Linked DNA regions of Homo sapiens: all the other regions are linked to region 1. The links come from fine-mapping of genetic effects on gene expression. A gene starts in region 1. Each other region holds a variant in brackets. All regions are shown on one strand. Distances are between the middles of the regions.

Region 1 (6,141 bases):
GGAGTGTTGGCAGAGCTCCCCGGATGGGCCCATGCTGACTCGGCCCCCTGCCCCTGCCCCCGCCCCCATGGAACCTGAGGCCATCAGAGGTTTAGGGAACATCTATCTGGCCTGTTCATTTCACTAATGAGACTGAAGCCTTTTAGGGGTTTGGGGTCAGATGGGTTTGAATCCCTCCCCATCTGCTTCCTAACCCACCTTCCTTCTGTTTGTGATTGGATCTGAACCCAAGGCCCCAAACCCAGACTTTTTTTGTTTTTTTGAGATGGAGTTCTCGCTCTTGTTGCCCAGGCTGGAGTGCAATGGTGCGATCTTGGCTCACCACAACCTCCGCCTCCCGGGTTCAAGTGACTGTCCTGCCTCAGCCTCCTGAGTAGCTGGGATTACAGGCATGCGCCACCACACCTGGCTAATTTTGTATTTTTAGTAGAGATGGGGTTTCTCCATGTTGGTCAGGTTGATCTCAAACTCCTGACCTCAGGTGATCCACCAGCCTCAGCCTCCCAAAGTGCTGGGATTACAGGCGTGAGCCACCCACCGTGCCCAGCTGACGTTTTTTTTTAATTGCAATAATTTTTGGTTACATGGGTAAGTTATTTAGTGGTGACTGCTGAGATTTTGGTGCATCCATCACCTCAGCAGTGTACACTGTACCCAGTATGTAGTCTTTTGTCCCTCACCTTCCCACCCTTCCCTCACCTTCCCACCCTTCCTTCCCCCCGAGTCCCCAAAGTCCAATATATCATTCCTATGCCTTTGCATCCTCATAGGTTAACTCCCACTTACAAGTGAGAACATATGATATTTGCAAACCCAGATATTTTTATCCACAGGTTTCTAGTTGACAGGGTGGGTACTCCAGTGTCAAGAGCTGTTGGGACCTCAGTTTCCCCAAGGAAAAATGACAGTTGAGTTTATGTCCTCCAAGGTTTTTCTGACGTTCTTAGCTCTGTGTGTCAGGAGTTCTACGGGTGGCTCGTATTGTGTTTTCTCAGGGCAGAGGGCTGGGGCTGGGAGCTCATGGAGGGAGGGCCTGACTTGAGCCCCAATGCCCCTCACACTGTGTCCTGAAGGCCATCCCACAGGAGTCACTTGGCTCTCAGTTTCCCCACCCCAGGCCCCAGTCTGAAGGGCTCCTTTGCAAGGAGTTGCCCCCTATGACTGCCACTGCCTGTCACCAATGCAAAAGCTGCTTAAGCAGCCTCCAGAGAGGGAAAGGAAAGACCCTTGCTTTTCCCAAGTTCTGCAATGAGTCAGTCTCAAGGAGCCACGGAACTCTGTGTATAAGCCAGTGAGTTGCTTGGCCAGCTCTGTGTGGAAATGGCATGATGTGTGCAGGATCCCCATATCTTGAGAATGGTTGCTGTGCCCAGAATGTGCTGCCAAGTGCACCAGTTCCTAAAACAAAATCATCCATCCCTTTGGATGGATGATTTTACATCACAATTTTACAAAATGCATCGCATTTTTACAAAATGAAGATATTCTCTGGGAACAGTCCAAACCTCTGTGGTGATTCCCACACTTTGCTGGGCATCCGGGCCCCTGGGGAGCTTGTTAAAGGGCCAGTGCCCTGCTGTGCACCCCACCTCGATCAGGTTGCTCTAGGCAGCAGGGCAGCTGTGATTAATGGGCTCCTGGGGGATTCTGATGCAGATTTCCTAGGACTGCATTTGAAGAAATGTTTTGCTGACATTCCTAGCTTAATGGGTTACTTACAGGTTACTTTTTCTCTCCCCATTAGAAGTCTGGAAATGCAGGTTTGAAGGCATCAGGGGGCGGGGGGAGGGATCCAGGTCTTCTATAATGAGCTGTAAACGATAAACAAGTCTGGCTAGATCTGTGTCCAAACAGACGGATGGGACTAACAAGCTCTTACGTCCCTGGAGGTCACAGACAAAGTCCTCTTGGCTTCTGGTCCTGACTTGTTGCCCACTAACTCCGTAGCTGCTTCTCAGATCTTAGTTTTCTCACTTGTAAAATAAGGGGGCTGTAAATAAGTGGAAGCCCTGGTGTCAGAAGAGGCATCAGAGCTGGGTTTGTATTCCCACTGTGTGATTTTGGCGAATTAGAGAACGTTTCTGGGCCTGTTTAACCATCTGTAAAGTGGGGCTATAAAATGGAGACTTAGCTGCTAGGGTTAATGAGAGAATTAACGGAATCAGTGTTTGACACATAAGAAGTGCTCGATGTTAGTCATTATTTTTTATTATTTTAGTAATATCATCTCTGAGGGCCCTTACAGGACTTCCAGACCGAGTCCACGCCCCTGGGGGACTTGGGAGCAGTAAAATGTAGTGGCAGGAGGCACCTCGGCCATCGCCCACCCCACCAGCTGGGAGACTCGGGCAGGTTATTCACCCTTCTGCACCTCGCTTGACTTATCTGTATAAAGAGAACAGTCACAGTAACTGCCTCATGGAGTTACTCCCAGGACTGAGATAATCCACGGACACACTTAGCCCAGTGCCCAGCACTCGGCTGGAGCTCCAAAAAGGTCAGCTATTGTTATGAAGCGTAGGGCGGGGAGGGTTCATCCTCTTGGGCGGTCAGGCCAGGCTGCATTTAGGTACCCGGTGGGGGCGGAGCAGGGGCGACGCCGGTGCACGCCCTCTTTTTTTTATTTTTAAAATTTCACCCGGGCCTTGACAACCGGTACAATCCTGTCCTCCCCTGTTCCCGCCCCCGAGCCAGAGGATTCGCTTTTGCGTGGGCAGCTGCAGGGATGGTGACTCGGGCTAGCTCAGATGTGGCTGCCGTTAGTCCCCAGCTGCGCGCTCCCCCGTCCCTCCCCAGCCCTCTTCCGGCGCCTGCTAAAGCGAGAGAAATGCCCTCGGGGGAAGATATGTAGCGATCCAATGGAACGTGGAGATCAACGTTGTGTTTTCTTCGCGCCCACCCGAAGTTGAAGGGAGGTGGCGCGGCGGGTCTCAGCCCCTCCCGGACGCCGAGGCCCGGCCCCCGCCCCTCGGAGACCCGCCCCCGCATGCGGAACCGCCCTCTGCGAGGCCCGGTTTGGGCCGTGCGGGAATGGGCGTGGCCTGGGCGGGGCGGGCGCTAGGACCCACCGGAGCGCCGTGAACGTCACCGAGCGGCGCCGAGGCCCCGGGTTGAGCGGGAGGCGCGATCGGTCCGGTCGGTGGCTCCCCGCGGCGGGGCCGGGCCCGATCTCGGGCGGGAACCGAGCGCAGAGCCGGTACTGGGGGAGGGGAGAGGGGGCGGGATTCCCGCCGGGAGGGATCCGGCGTAGCAGGGGGCGGAGTCTTATTCCAACCCCGCTTCGCTTTCCGCATGTCCCGCTTTGCGCTCCCGGCCCTGGGCATCCCGCTGTTTCCCTCTGCGTCCGCGGCCCTGCCCTTTTCGGGGGCACAGCTGTGGTCTTTCCACCCCGCGAGACAGCGGGGCGAGGGGGCGCGGGCGGCCAGTGGATAGAGGCTGATGCCCCCAAGCACGGACGCCAGCGTGGGGGTGGAGGTTCTTCCAGCTGCCCTGAGCCTGTGCGAAGCGGGAGGTCCTTCCCCAGTTCCCACAGACTGTGGGGAGGGAAGAGACGGTGGAAGCGAGCGGGTTCTGGGCTCCTGGGTCTCTGGAACTACCCTCTGCCCTTGCCCCAACACTCAGGTAGCGGGAAGGATGACCACGCTCACACGACAAGACCTCAACTTTGGCCAAGGTAGGGAGGCTGGACCTGCGGGCCCGGGGGCGGGGGCGTCTGGGCCGGCGGGCTTCCTCGAGCGCGCCACCGGCTTGTGCCCCCCTGCAGTGGTGGCCGATGTGCTCTGCGAGTTCCTGGAGGTGGCTGTGCATCTCATCCTCTACGTGCGCGAGGTCTACCCCGTGGGCATCTTCCAGAAACGCAAGAAGTACAACGTGCCGGTCCAGGTGAGGCACGTCCCAGAACCACAGAGTGGGTACAGGGTGGACTTTTAAAAATTCTTTGGTCGGGCGCCGTGGCTCACGCCTGTAATCCTAGCACTTTGGGAGGCCGAGGCGGGCGGATCACCTGAGGTCAGGAGTTCGAGACCAGCCTGACAAACATGGTGAAACCCCGTCTCTACTAAAAATACAAAAATTAGCCGGGCGTGGTGGCCAAGGCCTGTAATCCCAGCTACTCAGGAGGCTGAGGCAGGAGAATCCCTTGAACCCAGGAGGCGGAGGTTGCAGTGAGCCGAAATTGTGCCACTGCATTCCAGCCTGGGTGACAAGAGCGAAACTCCGTCTCAAAAAAAAAAAAAAAAAAAAAAAAAAACCTCTTCCACTTCGGGCCAAGCCACCTCATTCCGCAGGGCCCTGCCCATGCCTTCCAATGCCTTCCAGTTCCAAAGTGGTGATGCCTACCCACCCCTCAGAAGAGAGTTCCCCTTGCCAGAAGTTAGGGACCAGGCCTGATAAGAGTTACCCCGGGGGTGGCCGGGCATGGTGGCTCACACCTGTAATCCCAGCACTTTGGGAGGCTGAGGCGGGCGAATCACAAGGTCAGGAGTTCAAGAAACCAGCCTGACCAACATGATGAGATCCTGTCTCTACTAAAAATACAAAAATTAGCCTGGTGTGGTGGTACGCGCCTGTAATCCCAGTTACTAGGGAGGCTGAGGCAGGAGACTCGCTTGAACCCGGGATGCAGAGGTTGAAGTAAGCCCAGATCGTGCCACTGCACTCCAGCCTGGGCGACAGAGCAAGACTATGTCTCCAAAAAAAAAAGTTACCCTGGGGGCATGGTGGCACTTTGAAGGAGCTCGTGAAGCTGGTGAACCTTGGTGTGAGGAGGGTATTTCCAAAAACCTCCAAATCTTCTCCCTACCATTTATCCTAAACTCAATGGGTTAAGGCTAAAAGGCAGACAAAGCAGTGTGCATCGCACTGTAGCTCCAGTCCCTAGAAGTGCCTGTCTCTGGAAGGCACTCAGGAAACATGAGAATAAGTGGTAGAAGCTCAAAGGACATCCAGGTGGTCCCCGCTTCAAGTCCCCACACCACCATTGTTTTCTCACTTCCAGTATGGTATTCAAGACATTACTTGAGGTAGTCAGCACTTTATTTTTTATTTTATATTTTATTTTATTTTATTTTTTGAGACTGAGTCTCGCTCTGTCGCCCTGGCTGGAGTGCAGTGGCGTGATCTTGGCTCACTGCAACCTCCACCTCCTGGGTTCAAGTGATTCTCCTGCCTCAGCCTCCCGAGTAGCTGGGATTACAGGCGTGTGCCACCACATCTGGCTAATTTTTGTATTTTTAGTAGAGACAAGGTTTCGCCGTGTTGGCCAGGCTGGTCTCGATCTCCTGACCTCTGGTGATCCACCTGCCTTGGCCTCCCAAAGTGCTGGGATTACAGGCGTGAGCACTTTATTATGAAACAGGTTTTGTGTTAGATAATGTTGCCCAACTGTGGGCTAATGTGTTTTGAGTGTGTTTAGGTAGGCCTGGCTAAGCTATGATGTTCTGTATGTTATGTGTATTAACTGCATTTTCCGCTGGCGATATTTGATTGGTTTATCCAAACATAAACCCATAGTAAGTTGAAGGTCACCTTTAGAGGGGAAAGGAAAAAACAATTGACATTTACTCACTTCTTCTTTATGATGAAGTGATTGAAGCCCAGAGAAGTTAAGGAATTTGCCTGAGGCCACACAGTTCCTTAGTTCTTAACTTTTGACATCTGATTACATTTTCCTGGATCCTTTTTCTGGAAAAATGCCCAAGTGCACAAAGATACAACTTTAGGGATTTTTCAGACTCTGGAGGAGTCCATGGACCCCACATTAAGAACCCCTAATGGTATATTAAATGCTCATATTGGGATTGAGTTCTTATCTTTCTTTTCCTTTGAGATGGAGTCTTGCTTTGTTGCCCAAGCTGGAGTGCAGTGGCTTGATCTCAGCTCACTGCAACCTCCGCCTCCCAGGTTCAAGTGATTCTCCTGCCTCAGCCTCCCAAGTAGCTGGGATTACAGGTGCCACCTCACCTGGCTAATTTTTGTATTTTTAGTAGAGATGGGGTTTTGCCATTTTGGCCAGGCTGGTCTCAAACTCCTGACCTCAGGTGATCCACCCACCTCATCCTCTCAAAGTGCTGGGATTAGAGGAGTGAGCCACTGTGCCCAGCCTGAGTTCTTATCTTCTAACTTCTTTCTCTATGGATAAGT
Region 2 (6,141 bases), 38 kb before region 1:
TGTATTTTTAGTAGAGATGGGGTTTCACCATGTTGGTCAGGCTGTTCTCGAACGCCTTACTTCAAGTGATCTGCCTACCTCGGCCTCCCAGAGTGCTGGGATGTCAGACATGAGCCCTCGTGCCCAGCCTTAATTTTTGTATATTTGGTAGAGACCGGGTTTTGCCATGTTGGCCAGGCTGGTCTCAAACTCCTGACCTGAGGTGGTCCGCCCACCTCAGCCTCCCAAAGTGCTGGGATTACAGGCATGAGCCATTGTGTCTAGCCATATCTGCCTTTCAGCTAGCCTGCTTTGATCTCCCAGTTCCCCTGCCCTCCCTGCTCCCTCCCCACAAGGTTCCCATGCCCATCAAACTTGGATAGGGAGAGAACAAGCATATTTAATTTCTTCTAGATCTGCCTGCTTTCCTTGGTGCCTGACCCCTGACCCCGACTGATTTTTCCAACGCAGTAAACATCTCTGGCATCTTATGGGCGTGATCCAGGCCAGTGAGGAATTTGGCCAGGAAAGTCTTTTGTCATTTGCAACCTGGTTCGCCCTGGAACAGAGGGTTGGCCAGGAGTGAGATGCCAAGTGGGGGGATTTAAATGGTTCTCCTGAAGTGACCCCTGAAGCCAGATCTGCTGGGACAGATGTCCTGGGTGGGCATTGTGAGTCTGGCCTGTTAGGGGCAGTTAGCTTCAGATAGCACCTCAATTTCAGGTGAGCCTCAACTTCCCAGTGGGCTCTGCTGCAAAAATGTGGGGTGGGGTTCCAGGGATGGTTTTGTGGTCCTGGAAATCACTAAACAGTATGCAAAGTGGGTAAACATGGGCAATATGTGTGGGGTTTTTTTGGATTCCATGCTTGCATCAGAACCCCTGGGGGGGAAGTGCTCCAGAAAACTGTAAAGTGCCTGTCCAGGACTGGATGATCAGGACCACAGGGACATAAAGGCCAACATGATTCTTTTCCCCAAACACTTCTTATCCCAGGATATCAGCTACTAGACCACAGGGATCAACCTGCCCAACTTATTCCTGCAAGCAAGTATGTGCTTAAGTTGTATTTTGTTTTGTTTTTAAACATGATACACCTTTATCCAGGGAAGGCAGAGAACAGTCAAGTTATTCCAGCCACAGAGGAAGGGAATACCAGGGTGTGAGCCTCTCTTGCCAAAAGCCTTAGAGAATCTGGAAGAAATTCTTGGCTGTGGAGCAGCAAGAACGTGGGCCTTGGAGCTGGACAGCCTTGGCCCAGGTTCATGTCCTTGCTCTGCCATGTACTTCCCAGGACCTCTCAGTGGGTCCCTGGGCCAGCAGCCTCGCGTTCCCTGGGAGCTTGTTAGAGCACAGAGCCCACTGAGTCAGATGTGCTTTTTTTTTTTTTTTTTTTTGAGATGGAGTTTCACTCTTGTCCCCCAGGCTGGAGTGCAGTGGCACGATCTCTGCTCACTGCAACCTCTGCCTCCCAAGTTCAAGCGATTCTGGTGCCTCAGCCTCCGAGTAGCTGGGATTACAGGTGTGCACCACCGCGCCTGGCCTAATTTTTGTATTTTTAATAGAGACGGGGTTTCCCCATGTTGGCCAGGCTGGTCTCGAACTCCTGACCTCAGGTGAGCCACCCGCCTTGGCCTCCCAAAGTGCTGGGATTACAAGCGTGAGCCGCCGCGCCCGGCCAGATGTACATTTTTAACTGGACCTCCAGGTGACTCTTAGCATGTTCAGGTTTGAGGAGCACTGACCTGGGACCCTGGGCAAGTCGAGTCAAATAACTCCAGCGTGCCTCACGGTCCTCAACCTGTCGCATGGTGATAATGCCTACTTGAAAAGGTCGTTGTGATAATTCAATGAGATAATGTATTCCAGCACTTAGCACAGTGCCTGGTACATAGGAGATGTTCCATATTCATCTCCTGATGGTGGACCTTCTTTCGGGAAGTTTAAATTTCTTTTCCACTCTCAAAAACGCCTCTTGGTTTTGAACTTGAAGCTGTTGCAGTGCTGGAGTCGGACAGTAGAGGGCACTCTCGGCATTGCCATCGCGGAGAGCAAGACACGCGGGATGGAGGCTGCGTGGGTCCGGACTTCGTGTGTGCAGGTGCTGCGGGCCGGCTCCTGGGCACCCACCCAGCTCATTCGCCGAGCGGCTCCCCTCCTGGGGTTGAGTGTCCTGGGCCTGAGTCTGCAGCCTCAGCCATCTGTTCCCCAACTTGATCTCCCACTGCTAGTTACAAACAAATCGCCCGGCTTGTGCAAACCTCCTGGGCTCAGTCCCCAGTCCCGCGGGGCCGCTAGACGTTGATGAAGGATCCCTGGTCGCCGTTGGCCGTCTCGGGCTCCACACAGCGCCCTTTCCTCCGTGTAACCCTGCGGTTCCGGTGGAATTTGGCATAGCAGCGCAGCCCTGGGCGAGTGGAGGCAAGGGGGGTCAGAGGCGCGAAGGGCCCGTGCCCTCCCCTTCCTTCCCCTGCACGCTCGGGGCCAGCCAGCTCCCTCCTGCCTTCATTATTCTGCCCTACAACCCAGCTTCCTCACGGCAGCCCCA[A/G]TGAGCTTAAAAGACACGAACCCGGAAGAGGGGAGGAATGAACACGGAAGGAGAACAGAGAAGACTCAGGGCGGTCGGGGCGGTGAACATATTCTGTGTGACACGTAATGGTGGGACATGGCATGCATTTGTCAAAACCCACAGAATGCACCGCACAGTGAACTATAACTTACGTTGACTTCAGTTAGTAATAATAATACATCACTATTGGTTTGTCAAGCAACAAATGTACCAAGAGAGGCCGGGCACGGTGGCTCACGCCTATAATCCCAGCGCTTTGTAAGGCCGAGGCAGGTGGATCACTTGAGGTCAGGAGTTTGAGACCAGCCTGGCCAACATGGTGAAACCCCGTCTCTACTTAAAAAAATACAAAAACTACCCGGGCATGGTGGTGGGTGCCTGTAATCCCCGTTACTTGGGAGGCTGAGGCAGGAGAATCACATGAACCCGGGAGGTGGAGCTTGCAGTGAGCCAAGATCATGCCACTGCACTCCAGCTGGGGCGACAGAGCTAGACTCCCTCTCAGAAAACAAACAAACAAACAAACAAACAAACAAATCTACCACATGATTGCAAGATGTTATTAATAGGAGAAACTGCATGCAGGGGCAAAGCAGGTATATGAGAACCACATTCTGTGAAATTTTTCTAGAAAACTGCTCTAAAAATAAAGTCCACAGGGTACGGTGGCTCACACCCGTAATCCCAGCACTTTGAGAGGCTGAGGTGGGAGGATCGCTTGAGCCCAGTAGTTCCAGACCAGCCTAAGCAACATAGGGAGACCCTATCTCTACAAAAAATGTAAAAATTAGCCAGGCATTGTGGCATACACCTGTAGTCCCAACTATAGGAAGGAGGGGCTAACATGAGAGGATCCTTTGAGCCCAGGAGTTCCAGGCTGCAGTGCGCCTTGGTTGCACCACTGTAGTTCAGCCTGGGTAACAGAGTGAGACTCTGTCTCAAAAAAATTAAAAAATAAAATACACAGATAAATTCAATTAAAAAGTCTATAATCTTGAAAATTGGAAAGGAAAAAGGTTATTAAATTTTTTTTTAAGTGGCTCAAATTCTGCCCTTCCCTGTAAAACATCCTATGGAGAGCCATTGCTTTTTTTTTTTTTTTTTTTGAGATGGAGTTTTGCTCTTGTCACCCAGGCTGGAGTGCAGCGGCACCATCTTGGCTTATGAAACCTCTGCCTCCTGGGTTCAAGTGATTCTCCTGCCTCAGCCTCTCGAGTAGCTGGGATTACAGGCATGCGCCACCACACCCAGCTAATTTTGTATTTTTTTTTTTTTTTTTTAGCAGAGATGGGGTTTCACCATGTTGGCCAGGCTGGTCTTGAACTCCTGGCCTCAAGTGATCTGCCCACCTCCGCCTCCCAAAGTGATGGGATTACAGGCATGAGCCACCGTGCCGGGCCTCCCTTTTTTTTTTTTTTTTTGAGACAGGGTCTTGCTCTGTTGCCTGGACTGGAGTGCAGTGGCATGGCAAGATCTCGGCTCACTGCAATCTCTGCCTCCTGGGCTCAAGTGATCCTCCCCACTTCAGCCTCCCAAGTAGCTGGTACTATGGGTGTGCGCCACCACACCCGGCTAATTTTTTTTTTTTTTTTTGTATTTTTGGTAGAGACAGTGTCTCTCTACCTTGCCAAGGCTGGTCTCCAACTCCGGGCTCAAGGATCCACCTGCCTTGGCCTCCCAAAATGCTGGGATTACAGGCATGAACCACCCCGCCTGGCCTCCAATGCCCACTTCTGTCTACCCTTTCTTTTTTTTTTTTTGAGACGGAGTCTCTCTCTGTTGCCCAGGCTGGAGTGCAGAGGCACGATCTCAGCTCACTGCAACCTCCGCCTCCTGGTTTCAAGAGATTCTCCTGCCTCAGCCTCCTGAGTAGCTGGGATTACAGGTGCGCGTCACCACACCCGGCTAATTTTTGTATTTTTAGTAGAGATGGGATTTCACCATGTTGGTCAGGCTGGTCTCAAACTCCTGACCTCATGATCTGCCCGCCTTGGCCTCCCAAAGTGCTGAGATTACAGGCATGAACCACTCCCCTGGCCTCCAATGCCCACTTCTGTCTACCCTTTCTAAAACAACTGTAGGACTCATTATCATATTATTATCTTTATAGCCCTTATTACTTACTTTTTTTTTCTTTTTGAGACAGAGTCTCACTCAGTCACCCAGGCTGGAGTGCAATGGCAGGATCTCGGCTCACTGCAATCTCTGCCTCCCGGGTTCAAGCGATTCTCATGCCTCAGGCTCCCGAGTAGCTGGAATTACAGGCAAGTGCCACCATGCCCATCTAATTTTTGTATTTTTAGTAGAGACAGGGTTTCACCATGTTGGCCAGGCTGGTCTCACTCCTGACCTCAAGTGATCCTCCTGCCTCGGCCTCCCAAAGTGCTAGGATTACAGGCATGAGCCACCATGCTCGGCCATAGCCCTTATTATTTTCTAAAGACATACTATCTATGTATTTGATTGTTGTCTGCTCATATCACTAGAATGTAATTCATGGGCACAGAACTTGCTGGTTCTTTTCACTACTGAACCCCCCAGTGTCCAGAGCAATGTCTGATACGCAGTAGGTGCTCCCTAAATATTTAACTGATTAGATGAGTGAATAATCAGAACTACATAGCTTTATTGCCGAGGCGGGAGGATCCCTTGAGCCCGGGAGTTAAAGCTACAGAGAGCTGGGATTGCGCCACTGCACTCCAGCCTGGGTGACAGAGTGAAACCCTGTCTCAAAAAATAATTAAATTAAATTTAAAAGTCCACAATTTTAAAAATTGGGAAGAAAAAGATGTATTATCATCATTTTTAAGACAGGGTCTCGCTCCATCATCCAGGCCGGAGTGCAGTGGCACGATCATGGTAGATAACTCTCTGAGGCTAATATGAGCAAAACGGGGCATGTATCTCAGGTCCACAGAGGGGCTGAGCCCCAATTCCCCCATCCAGGAGATGTGTGAATGCTGATTTGATATTGGATGGAACTGATTAATTATCGTTCATGTTTGGCATTTTGTTTTTAAAAGAGTACTTGTCTTTCAGAGGTACACACTAAAATATTCACAGGTGAAATACCTGTAAGCTCCCAGGAGTTGCTTAGAAATCATGTCGGAATAAGGAAAGTGTGTGAGAGATGATAGACACAGATTGGCCGTGAGTTGGTATTGAAGCAGAGTGATGAGAAATGGGCGCTCATTAGACTATTCTAACTACTTTAGTATATATTTGAAACTTTGCAGAATACAAAATTGAAACTGGCTGGGTGTGGTGGCTCATGCCTGTAATCCCAGAACTTTGGGAGGCCAAGACAGGTGGATCGCTTGAGGTCAGGAGTTTGAAACCAGCCTAGGGAACATGGCAAAACTCTGCCTCTACCAGAAATACAAAAATTAGCTGGGCTGGTGGCATGCGCCTGTAGTCAGAGCTACCTGCAGGGCTGGGATGGGAGGATCACCTAAGCCTGGGAAGCAGAGGTTGCAGTGAGCCAAAACTGCACTGCTGCACTCCAGCCTGGGTGACAGAGTAAAACCTGTCAAAACAAAACAAAAACCTGAAACTATTCCCCCCACTTTCCTGGCTGTGTAAGTTTGGGCATCA
Region 3 (6,076 bases), 59 kb before region 1:
AAGGCTGAGGCAGGAGAATCGCTTGAACCCAGGAGGCAGAGGTTGCAGTGGGCCGAGATCGCGCCATTGTACTCCAGCCTGGACAACAAGAACAAACCTCCGCCTCAAAAAAAAAAAAAAGGAAAGAAAGAAAAAGGGCAGATGGGCTGGGCGCGGTGGCTCACCCCTGTAATCCCAGCACTGTGGGAGGCCAAGGCAGGTGGATCACTTGAGGTCAGGAGTTCGAGACCAGCCTGGCTAACATGGCGAAACCCTGTCTCTACTAAAAAGACAAAAATTAGCTGGGCATGGTGGTGGGCACCTGTAATCCCAGCTACTCCGGAAGTTGAGGCACGAAAATTACTTGAACCTGGGAGGCAGAGGTTGCAGTGAGCCCAAAATGGGCCACAGCACTCCAGCTTGGGTGACAGAGTGAGACTCCATCTCAAAAAAAAAAAAAGAAAAGAAAAGACAGATGCCTTGGGAGGGCAGGCAGCTGCAGAAAGAGCTTCCAAAGGGAAGGGACCCAGGCTGAGCACAATGTATGAGCGGGGCTCGGCCAGGCAAAGTGGGGCCAAGCCCCAGGCCCTGCATGGGTGGCGGTGGGCATGGAGATAACTGAGGTCGGGGTGGGGTGGCACAGAGACTTTGGGAGGCCAGGAGCCCCAAATTGGGAGCTTCAACGGGCCTGGTGGTCAATGAGGGCCCTAGAAGTTTACTCAAGGGATTGAGGGGTCAGGCTGGAAGGGAGAGATGCCACATGCCTGGGGCAGAGGCAGTGTCCTGGCGCAGACATGGGCAAGGTTTGCGAAGAAGGCCGGGGTTTCTGGCCTGGGTGGAAGGGCAGAAGGAGCCCTCACCACCTGCAAAAAAGAACTGTGGGCCAGGTCTGGTGGCTCACGCCTGTAATCCCAACACTTTAGGAGGTGGAGGGAGAAGACTGCTTGAGCCCAGGAGTTCGAGAACAACCTGGCTAACAAAGTAAGATCCTATCTCTACAAAAAATCAAAAAATTAGCCAGGTATGGTGGAGTACATCTATAGCCCCAGCTACCTGGGAGGCTGAGGTGGGAGAATCACTTGAGCCAGTGAGGTCAAGTGTACAGTGAGCCAAGATCATGCCACTGCACTACAGCCTGGGGGACAGAGCAAGATCCTGCCAGAAAGAGAAAGTAAGGAAAGAAAGAAAAGAAAGAAAGAGAGAAAGAGAAGGAAGAAAGAAAGAAAAAGAAAGAAAAGGAAGGAAAGAAGGAAGGAAGGAAGGAAGGAACGAAGGAAGGGAAAGAAGGGAAAGAAAGGACAGAAAAGAAAGACAGACAAACTCACTCTGGCAGCAGAGGAAAAAGCATTTCTAGAAGAGTTACTCTTGACCACACACCAACTATGTGCCAGGCCCTATGCCAACCGTCTCACATGACCTTATCTGGACCTCACAGCAGCCTCTGGTACTATTATTCCCATTTCACAGATGAGAAAACCAGACTCAGAGATAAATTATGTTGATCAAGACTCCACAGGTAGCAAGTGGCAAAACTGGAATTAAATTTCAAACTCGCCTCCAAAACCAGTGCACCCAACCTCCCCGCTGGGGGCGCAGGCCTTCAGCTGGGAACTGTTTGGGCTTGTGAGAAAGGTCCACACATGGGGGCAGATGGAATCCAGAGCTGGTGGCTGAGATACTTCACCTTTACCTCCAGGGCCCAGGGCCAGAGTGAACCACAAGGGGCCTGGCTCTGTGGCCCAAAAGAAATTCCTTTCTCAGCTCCAAGAGACTAGGAAAATAATTCTGTAAGGACCGATGCACCCAACTTTAAGATCTCGAGACTCTGACCAGGCTGAGTAGTGTGTTACAGAAGTCTAGCTCTAGAAGGAATCTTCGCCATCACCTCACCTACCTTCGTCTACTATTGAGCGCTTCCTATGTGCTAGGTGCCATTCTAAGTGCTTTCTGTATATAAATGCACTAAATCCTTACAATCCTCTGAGGTCTTATTATCCCCATTTTACAGCTGAGAAAACTGAGGCTCAGAAGGAAGTAACTTGCCCAAGGTCACAGAGCAGGCCAGTGGCAGAGCCAGGACTCAAACCCAGGCTGTGCTGTCCAGCCATTAGGCCTCTCCCCATTACAAAGATGGGGAAACTGAGGCAAGAGAGGTGTAGTCTTCCATGGATTTCAATCCCCAGGGGCTTGAAGTGATAAACGGTGTTAAGTTTCTTAAACATTTAGTGTCACCCAGCATCACTGGCACCTGCTTTTCATTCACCCTGGGGAGTCAGAGGTGTGCAGAGCAGATTCGGAGCTGCGCTCTCAGTACTGACCTCGCTAACCAGGTACTCTGCCCTAGGAATGGAGGTGCAGTGAACCCTCATCCCGAAGGAAAGCACCTGATTGAAGGAAAGCATCCTGAAGGAAAGCAAGGGAAAGGGCACCTGATTGAACAGCAGGGAGGCTGGGAGGGTTGGGGTGGTCAGGGGCTTCTCTGAGGAAGGGATGGGGGAGGCTGAGGGGGAAGAAGAGCATTTTGAGCAGGAGGGGCGGCACTCACAAAGGCTCTGTGGCAGAAGGGGGGCGTGGAACTTTCTGGAAACTGAACAGAAGCCAGTGTGGCTGGAGTGGAAGGTGAGGGGAGTGGAGGAGGGAGGGACAGGAAGTTGGGGGCAGGCAGGGCTGGGCATGAGGACGATTCTGATCTTTATCTTCAGAGCTAACCACTGTCCCCTCCATCTGATAGTAAACCCTGGACCACAGACAGGAAGGAACTTGCTCAGGGCCACACCGCAGAGTCAGCCACAGTGGTCCCAACATCCAGCTTTTAAAGAAGACACCGAGGAAAGAGACAGAGGGAAGGTAGCTCCCATCACCCCTTTCCTCCCCAAAATCGACACCTAACTCTTCCCACTCTGGGCTTGTTTTGGAAATGATCTTCATTTTCAATGCTCTCGCTCCTATGCCTAGACTGTACACAGAGTAGGTCTTTAATAAATGGGCCCTGCAGAGCCCTGGATTATTCCGGAAAGAATGGCAGTTAGCATGAAAGGCTGAGTCCCAGGGGGGCCTCTGATCCGCAGGATACCCTAAGGGTCATGCTTACAACCTATGAGGTAAAGGCTTTTCCTAGCGCTGGAAGGGCCTGTAATACAGAGTGAGCACCCAGCTGGGCCCACACCTCTGCCATCTCTGTTAGGGAAGAAAACAACGTAACCTGGAAATACTGCAGATCCTTAGCACACACACAGTCTCCTCTGCGTGACGTCACTTTGGTTTGATAAATATGAACAAAGTTAGCACCAGTTGCTCCTCTTAAGCCCCTGGGAAAAGAAACGTCCAGAAGCCTAAGCCTCCCCTGCCTCAGTTTCTTCATCTGTGTAACAGGAGGACACCCAGAGAGGCCTTAATGTGCAGGAAGACTCCAGGGAGAAACTGAGCCAAACGGGCCCTGCACTTCCTGGCAGCCCAGGGAAAGAGGGGCCAGTAACTGTCAGGACAAAACCACTGTCTTTTGGCCCTGGGGGAGCTTCCTGGTAGCCAAAGAGACACAGGATTCTCAGGTATGGCCTGAAAGAGGAGCTGGAAGCAGGGAAGGAACCTGAGCTAAACGGGTGGCAGGGCCAGGACCTTTCCCAGCTGGGCAGGAAGGACGGACCTGAGCCCCTGGACTCTCACTACAGTGCTCAGCCCAGGGGAGGCCGCCCAGCTCTTTCCCAGACAGGGGTCAATGG[A/G]CCAAGGCAGCAGAGGGTCCCAGGATGCTATGCTGGAACAGGAAACCTGGGTGCTGGTCCAGGCGCCAAGGCCTCAGGCTCCTTTCTGCGAAACGGAGGCAGTACCCATTTGTCCCACGGGGGTGCCTCAACTGCCAGAGACAAGCATCTATCTGGACGGTCACTGTAAGTATCCGTTTACTAACTGTTAAATACCTATGTGGGGCAGGGATCCTGCATCATCAACGACAGCAGCAACTCCTGCTACTGACAAGCACCAGCCTGCCATGCATCTACACTGCACTGCCCCTAACTCATGTCATCCGTGTAACTGTATGGGGTAGAACTGAGGCTCTGAGAGATTAAGTAAATTGGCCCAATTCATAAAGCTTACAAACAACAGAGCCCAGACACAAATGTCAGAATCAATCTATCCAGCCAGAGTTTTTGTTTGTTTTTTTGAGACAGAGTCTTGCTCTGTCGCCCAGGCTGGAGTGCAGTGGTGCGATCTCGGCTCACTGCAACCTCTGCCTCCCGTGTTCAAGTGATCCTCGGTGCCTCAACCTCCTGAATAGCTGGGACTACAGGCGAGCACCACCACACCCAGCTAATTTTTGTATTTTTAGTAGAGGTGGGGTTACATCATGTTGGCCAGGCTGGTCTCGAACTCCTGACCTCAAATGATCCACCTGCCTGGGTCTCCCAAAGTGCTAGGATTACAGGTGTGAGCCACCACGCCTGGCCCAGCCTGAATTTGTAACCCTAATTCTAGACTACGTCCTGGACCATGGATCCATCATCCTAGGAGGTAGGGACTGTATTTAACTTCTTTTTACAATGAAGAAATAGATACTGAGAGAGTTCAGAAACCTACTCAAGGTCACACAGAAACCTACTCAAGACCTTGAATGCAGACCTGCCTGCCCCCAAAGCCTGTGCTCTGTCCACTGTGCTACACCGTCAGGATCTCGAAGAGCCGTAGAGGGCAGATGGAAATGAGGAAGTCTAACCTGGAGAAGGAAAGGCTGAAGAGAAACCAGCAGGGCATGCAGACCAAGACTTAAACCCTTTGTTTGCCACTAGAGGACCCATGGCGGGGTAGGACTTCCCAGAAATGGAATAAACTCCTACCAGTCCTGTGCAAACACTTGGTGGCCTGTTACACGTGCTAGTGAGATCCCCCAGGGTGGCCGGGGCCCAGGGACACCAGTCAGGGCTGCCAAGGATGGGAGGCAGAGTTGTGCAGCGGTTAACTTCGTGGGTACTGGAGGCAAACAGGTGGATCTGATCCTGGCTCCATGACTTTAGAACCTAGTGACCTTAGGCAAGTCACCTGACCTCTCAGAACAGCTGTTGGCTCTTCTGCAAAGAAGGGCAATACTGCCTGATTCAGTGTTGTTGTGTGGATCCAGTGGTACAGGGAGGTGGAGAGGTGTGGGAAGCGCTCCACACAGTGCCTGTGAGGAATTCAGCCCTCCATCCCAGCAGTCCTCATTACTGAGTTTTTAACCCAAATGCTACACGACTACCTCCTAGACCACCAGATCCTCCTCCCAAGGTCTTCTTCCCACAAGACCTCTGTACCCTAGTCCAGTCCTTTCTAAGCTCATCACAATGTCATTCTTGCAGCTCAGGACCTGGCTTCAAGAGACATGGACAGGGCTTGGTCAGGAGCTGCCCTTTGTGCAAAGGGCCTGGGGCAGTTGTTTCTTCTCACCTGGCACCACTGCCCACTCTGGCTGAGCTGGGCAGAAGCAGGCACTCAGCCCTTGCCCAAGGAATATACAAAACGAGGGAGTGGGGAGGGAGTGCAGGCCACAGGGAGCAGTTCCCCACCTCCTGAAGGGCTCTGAACTCAGAACATCCCCTAAGTGCCTATAAGCAAGGAGTCAACAGCTGCCCTCCACAGGGTGGCCAGATCCAGCAAACAAAAATACAGAACACCCAGTTAATTTCCAATATCAGATCATGAATAATTTGTTAATATGTCCCACATATTGCCTGAGACTTACTCATACTAAAAAACTGTTCGTTGTTGATCTGAAATTCAAATTCACCTGGATCTCCTGTACACGACCTGACAACCCTGACCCCTCAGGGCCTTCCAGCACTTTGTTGTCTCTGACTGGTAGCGGCTAACACCCTTGGAGACTGGGGTCTCGTTTGCCAAGTCAAGGGGAGGACCAGCCTTTTCATCCTGGGTACCGAAAGCCAGCATAGCTCATACCTGTGGATGCTCTTAGCCTGTCAGGCCCAAAAAGTTGCTCAAAAAAAGCCCCAAAGAGACTAAGCCCTCCCAAAGGACAGAAACAGCCAACGTTAAAGTCAGCCCTAAGCTGGTACCCCAGAAAGGACCTGGCCCTGGAGTCTGATCCCTATGGGTTCAAATCCTGATATTG

What was found.
Region 2: its variant is fine-mapped to the expression of MAD2L2 in whole blood (TOPMed, PIP above 0.99). The same link has a PIP of 0.9 or more in blood mononuclear cells.
Region 3: its variant is fine-mapped to the expression of MAD2L2 in whole blood (TOPMed, PIP above 0.99).

The regions. Positions count from the first base shown.
Region 1 is chr1:11,678,094-11,684,234 of GRCh38, reverse strand. It overlaps MAD2L2 (mitotic arrest deficient 2 like 2), which reads left to right and starts at 3,087. Exons shown (of 9, transcript NM_006341.4): 1 at 3,087-3,196; 2 at 3,622-3,673; 3 at 3,764-3,882. The coding sequence starts at 3,634. RefSeq lists an enhancer at 541-1,122 and silencers at 2,746-3,265, 3,706-3,765.
Region 2 is chr1:11,715,828-11,721,968 of GRCh38, reverse strand. It overlaps DRAXIN (dorsal inhibitory axon guidance protein), which reads right to left. Exons shown (of 7, transcript NM_198545.4): 7 at 1-2,385. The coding sequence ends at 2,273. Among named protein-coding and RNA genes, the nearest start is that of AGTRAP, 17 kb to the left of the region's middle. RefSeq lists an enhancer at 2,156-2,225. The variant A/G (reference allele first, on the strand shown) is at 2,527.
Region 3 is chr1:11,737,614-11,743,689 of GRCh38, reverse strand. The region is part of intron 1 of AGTRAP (angiotensin II receptor associated protein); the gene reads right to left. Among named protein-coding and RNA genes, the nearest start is that of AGTRAP, 4.5 kb to the right of the region's middle. The variant A/G (reference allele first, on the strand shown) is at 3,699.